Regions from separate parts of the Homo sapiens genome. Here region 2 is linked to region 1. Evidence: fine-mapped expression QTL. Tissue or cell type: thyroid. Region 1 holds a variant in brackets; the other region holds the start of a gene. All regions are shown on one strand. Distances are from middle to middle.

What was found. PIP is the estimated chance that this variant, and not a neighbour inherited with it, causes the effect.
Region 2: SHC2 starts here. The variant in region 1 is fine-mapped to the expression of SHC2 in thyroid (GTEx, PIP above 0.99). The same link has a PIP of 0.9 or more in atrial appendage, breast, esophagus mucosa, esophagus muscle, hypothalamus and prostate.

The regions. Positions count from the first base shown.
Region 1 is chr19:437,625-440,299 of GRCh38, reverse strand. SHC2 (SHC adaptor protein 2) reads left to right here. Exons shown (of 13, transcript NM_012435.3): 3 at 1,270-1,330; 4 at 1,463-1,582. Among named protein-coding and RNA genes, the nearest start is that of SHC2, 22 kb to the left of the region's middle. The variant C/T (reference allele first, on the strand shown) is at 1,245.
Region 2 is chr19:459,922-462,596 of GRCh38, reverse strand. SHC2 (SHC adaptor protein 2) reads left to right here and starts at 1,564. Exons shown (of 13, transcript NM_012435.3): 1 at 1,564-2,068. The coding sequence starts at 1,601.

The DNA of each region.
Region 1 (2,675 bases):
ACACGATCACCACTGTCTAGTTCCGAACATTCTCATTACCCCATCAAAACACCCCGTCCCCATCACAGCCACTCCCCGTCCCCTCCCCAGCCCCGGCACCCACGCATCCCCTCCCTGTCTCTGTGGATCGGCCTGTCCTGGACATTTCATAGCAATGGGATCACACGCTGCGTGGCCTCGTGTGTCTGGCGTCTCTCACTGAGCATGGCGTTCCCGAGGTGTGTCCGCGCTGTGGCCTGGGTCAGAGCCTTGCTCCTTTTTTTTTTTTTTTTTTGAGATGGAGTCTCACTCTGTTGCCCAGGCTGGAGTGCAGTGACACCGTGTCGGCTCACTGCAACCTCTGTCTCCTGGGTTCAAGCATTTCTCTTGCCTCAGCCTCCCCAGTAGCTGGGACTACAGGCGCCCACCACCACACCCAGCTAGTTTTTATGTTTTTAGTAGAGACGGGGTTTCTCCATGTTGGTCAGACCGGTCTCGAACCCCTGACCTCAGGTGATCCGCCCGTCTCAGCCTCCCCAAGTGTTGGGATGACAGGTGGGGGCCGCCGCGCCTGCATGCATTTGTTTGTGTCAGGCCCACAGTGCTAGGATGACAGGCAGGAGCCGCTGCATCTGGCCAATTTTTAACCTTTTGAGGAGCCCCCAGGCTGTTTTCCACAGTGGCCGTGCTGTGAAAATTCCCACATGCCCTGGGTGGGGGATCTGGTTTCTCCACGTGACGCCGACATTTCCGGGGCCCCTTCAGGACCCTGTAGACTTCTAACCTCTCCTGGGGACCAGTGGTCTGAGGCGCTCTTGTTTGGGGTCAGCTCCTGCCACCACTCAGGCTGCAGACAGGATCTCGACACGGACCCCGCGTCAGGCTCAGGGCCTCCTGCTCGCTGCTCCAACCCCCACATCTGATGCCGAGCCTTCCTTGTGGGCCGAGGCCAGGGACACACTGGTCCCTGGGAAAGAGGGTGGTAGAGGGGCCAGAGCTGGGGGCCGGGCCTCTGCCGGATGCAAGGACGCACGTGGAGTGGGCTGGTGCCCAAGCTGCACCTGTCCTGTGGGGCACTCCTCCCCCAGGTTCCCCAGCCCCCTCCCTGCCCACTTTAGGCCCCCTGATCCTCTCCCACCCCTCCCTCTCTGCCTTCCTCTCCCCTCTCTCTCGCCCTTCTCTGAGCTCCTGCCCCCTCCCCAGACCCCCGCCCTCTCTGACCCCTTCCTCCCCAGCTCCCTCCATGGCCACCCCCACCACACTCT[C/T]TAAGCCCCCTCCTCCCAACCCCAGGGAAGCCATCAACCGGCTCCATGAGGCCGTGCCTGGCGTCCGGGGATCCTGGAAGAAAAAGGTGAGTGAGGCTTGTGGTCTCTCGTGGGGCTGGTGGGGCAGTCGGGGGCTGTGGGGACGCTGCGGCCATCCTGGGAGCCCCTCGACAGCCCCCACCCACAGCCGCCCTCGCTGTGCTCCGCCCCCAACTCAGGCCCCCAACAAGGCCCTGGCGTCCGTCCTGGGCAAGAGCAACCTTCGCTTTGCCGGCATGAGCATCTCCATCCACATCTCCACTGATGGCCTCAGCCTCTCCGTGCCTGCCACGCGCCAGGTGGGTCTGCCCTCTTCGCCTGGCGTCCCCAGACCCCCAGAGGGGCCAGGAGTCCTAGGAGGCAAAGCCAGGTGGGGTGCTGGGGGCGGGCAGCAGGTGGCGTTTATCCAGAAAGACGAGCCGAGGCCCCGCTGAGCAGGAGCTGGGGGTGCAGCCACTGCCCTCACGGGGCTCAGCTCAGGGGCTCCCACCTGGGCGAGCCGTCCTGATACAGGGGCGCTCCTGGCATGGAGTGGGTGGGGGCAGGGACGCTGCTCAGCACCCTGCAGGGGCCAGGACGCCCCACCCCAGAGAGTGGTCCGTCCCAACATCCACAGTGCCTGGGGAGGGGCGGGGATAAACCCTGGCTATCAGTCCTCAAGTGGAAACAAACAACAAAAGTATAATTGCAGACCAGGCTCGGGCTTGGTTGCTCACGCCTGTAACCCCAGCACTGTGAGGCCGGGCTCAGTGGCTCACGCCTGTAACCCCAGCACTTTGGGAGGCTGAGGGGTGGGCAGATCACTTGAGGTCAGGAGTTCGAGACCAGCCTGGCCAACATGGCTGACTCTACAAAAAATACAAAGATTAGCCGGGTGTGGTGGTGGGCGCCTGTAATCCCAGCTACTTGGGAGGCTGAGGCAGGAGAATCGCTTGAACCTGGGAGTGGAGGTTGCAGTGAGCCAAGATTGCACTACTGCACTCCAGCCTGGGCAACAGAGTGAGACTCTGTCTCAAAAAACCAAAAAACAAAAAACTATAATTGCAGAAATAGAGGAAATAACAGATTTTAGGAAGCATTGTGAGGCCAGGTGAGGGGTGTCCTGAGCATGTGCTGGGCTCTGGGTGCTAGAAGAGACTTCCTGGAGGGCTCTGGGAGGTGGTGAGGAGGGGAATCTCAGGTGTGGCTGAAAGAGGAGGCATCGCCTTGTCGGAGAAGTTAGCATGGATCATCGTGAGGAGTTTGGGGTGAGACAGCATCTCTGAGCTGGTGTGGTGGCAGCAGGTGGCGGTGAGGGGCAGCTGGGGCTCCAGGGAGGAGGCTAGAGAAGGATGGAGCTGGCGGGGGGGTGACTGAGGGCCATTTCCACGCAATTTCCATCTCTGCCCCCAC
Region 2 (2,675 bases), 22 kb before region 1:
TCCTGCCACTGTCTCCAAGGGACAGGAAGGAAACACACCGGGGGTGCCGTGTGACTGAGCCCTCTGTGTGCCAGGGAGGGATGGCACCTGGACCACCTTACAAACCTCCCATCCAGAAAGACCCTAATCCCGGAGCTTGGGAGGGTGCGACACTGCCCCGGGACCTCCCTGAGGGATGCAGCCTGGGAGGCATGCAGGGCGCAGAGAGGGGGTGGTGGGGCTGCTCTCTCCTCAGCCCACAGCCCTCAGCCTAGGGCCGCCAAACCTGTCCCACCCTTTACCCATTAGGTGAACACACCCCAGGACCCAGCAGCCTGGATCCCCTGCATATGCCTGGACACGCACCCAGACACAGCGTACACCCTGCGCACAACACACACACCGCGCGCAGGTCCAGCCGCGGCTCCAGCCCGACCAATCGCGCCCACGATCTGCTCCTCCCGCGGACGCGCAGGGGCTGAGTCCGACACGCGCCGCGGCAGAGACGGCCGATCGCGACCGCGCGCCTCGCTCCCCTCCCCCACCTCCCCGGCCCCGCGGGCGGCGCCGGCTGTGATCTCATCCCCTGAATTATCGATCGGGCTCCGGGCAGCCTCGCCCCTCCCTCCCTCCCCACCTGCCAGCGCGTCCCGGCCCCTCCCTTTGTTCCCGGCAATCAGCCCTGCTTGGGGCGGGGCAGGTGCAGGGGAGCTCCAGCCAAGTCGGGCCAGGAGGCTGGGTCCCGGGGTGACAGTGACACCCCGTTTTCTGGTGCAGAAGGAACCGACCCTTGAGGCCAGGGAAGGTGCGGCCGGTCTCGGAGAGGTTGAGGCTGGGGATGGAGCGACCGGCCTGGGAGGCTGAGGCCCAGAGCTCAGATGAGCTGGTGCGGGACTGGGCTCCCCAGAAGTGAGGGAAGAAGGGCCGCGACCCTCCAGCCCGCTCCCCTGAGTTACAGCCGGAGAAACTGAGGCCGGGACAGGCCGCAGAGCAGGGGCCCGGCTCCGCTCCTAGCCCCGCCCCCCCCCCCCACCCCCGAGCCGGCACTCCTGGGTTTGAGCTTCGTCTGTGAGCCCTCGGCCGCGCCCCTTCCCCTCCCCGCGCCTCAGTTTCCCCACTAAGAAATAGGGGTGACCCTAAGGTACCTTCTAGCTGCAACAACGGAGAGGGAGGGGCTGACCTTAGGGTCTGGGGTTCTCTTTTCCCTGGCCGCGCCTCCCGGGGCCTCAGTTTCCCCACTAGGAAATAGGGGAAAGAAGGGATGTGGAATTTCTAAGCTTCTCCAGCTCGGTCCTTCTGCGAACTTGGGCGGCGGGCGGGGGTGGGGGGCGCAGCGGGGAGGGTCGCTGACGGGGTTCTGGGTTCAAAGCCCCGTCCCGCCTTGGCTGCGGGTTCCAGGCCAGCGCCCGGTGTCCTCGGAGGGCCTCAGTTTCCCCAGCCTCGCGGCCAGGCTCCGGGACGAGGAGGGCCGGGGTCCCAGGGGCGCAGCCCCCCGCGGCTGCGCGCTGGGCCGGGCGGATGACATCACCGGGCCGGGGGGCGGGAGGGAGCGGGCGGAGCGGGAGGGCTTCCTCCGCGCCAGGCGCAGCGCCCGGTCGGGCTCCGTCGGGCGGCCGCGGCCATGACGCAGGGTCCGGGCGGGCGCGCGCCCCCGGCGCCCCCCGCGCCCCCCGAGCCCGAGGCGCCCACCACCTTCTGCGCGTTGCTGCCCCGAATGCCGCAGTGGAAGTTCGCGGCCCCGGGCGGCTTCCTGGGCCGCGGCCCGGCGGCGGCGCGGGCGGCTGGGGCCTCGGGGGGCGCGGACCCCCAACCCGAGCCGGCGGGCCCGGGGGGCGTCCCGGCGCTGGCGGCCGCCGTCCTGGGCGCCTGCGAGCCCCGCTGCGCCGCGCCCTGTCCCCTGCCCGCGCTCAGCCGCTGTCGGGGCGCGGGGTCGCGGGGGTCGCGGGGCGGGCGGGGGGCGGCGGGGTCCGGGGACGCCGCCGCCGCCGCCGAGTGGATCCGGAAGGGCAGCTTCATCCACAAACCCGCGCACGGCTGGCTACACCCCGACGCCAGGGTCCTGGGGCCCGGGGTCTCCTACGTCGTGCGGGTGAGTCCCCCCCACCCCCCCCGGGAGCCCGTTCGCGGCGGCCTCCCCTCCCCCACCCTCTCCTCCGGGACCCCCGGACCCCGCGAGCCAGGTGTCCCCTCCCCATCCTTCCTGCTCTCCCGCCACCCCGGACCCCCATCCCCGGCCGGCGGCCGGCGGCTGCCCCCACCCGGAGGCGCTGGGGTCCGGGTTCCCACGGCGTCACGTGGGGAGGGGCGGGGAGAGGGCGGCGGGGGAGGGGCGCGCATGCGCAGGTGCACCGCCCCCCACTCGGACTGGGCGGGCGAGGCCGAGAGCGGCGAGCGGCCGGGGCGTCTCTGCCACCGGAGCCCCCCGGACAGCTGTTCACGAATGACAGACGGGGCCCGAGACGCTGGCCTGCGGTGGGGGTGCGGGAAGGGGTGTTTGGAAAGGGGCTGGCGCCCGGACAGACCCCAGGATTCCAGATGGGAGGCAGCAGGGACTTCCAGGGCGGCCAAGGAAGCGGCCTTTGTTTATTTACCTTGGGTCTTATGATAAATGAACCTTTTCAAACACACGGGGAAGTCGGGCGCCTGGACACAGCACGCCTCCACCTAGGAGGGTAACCTTCCCCTCTGCTGACGGG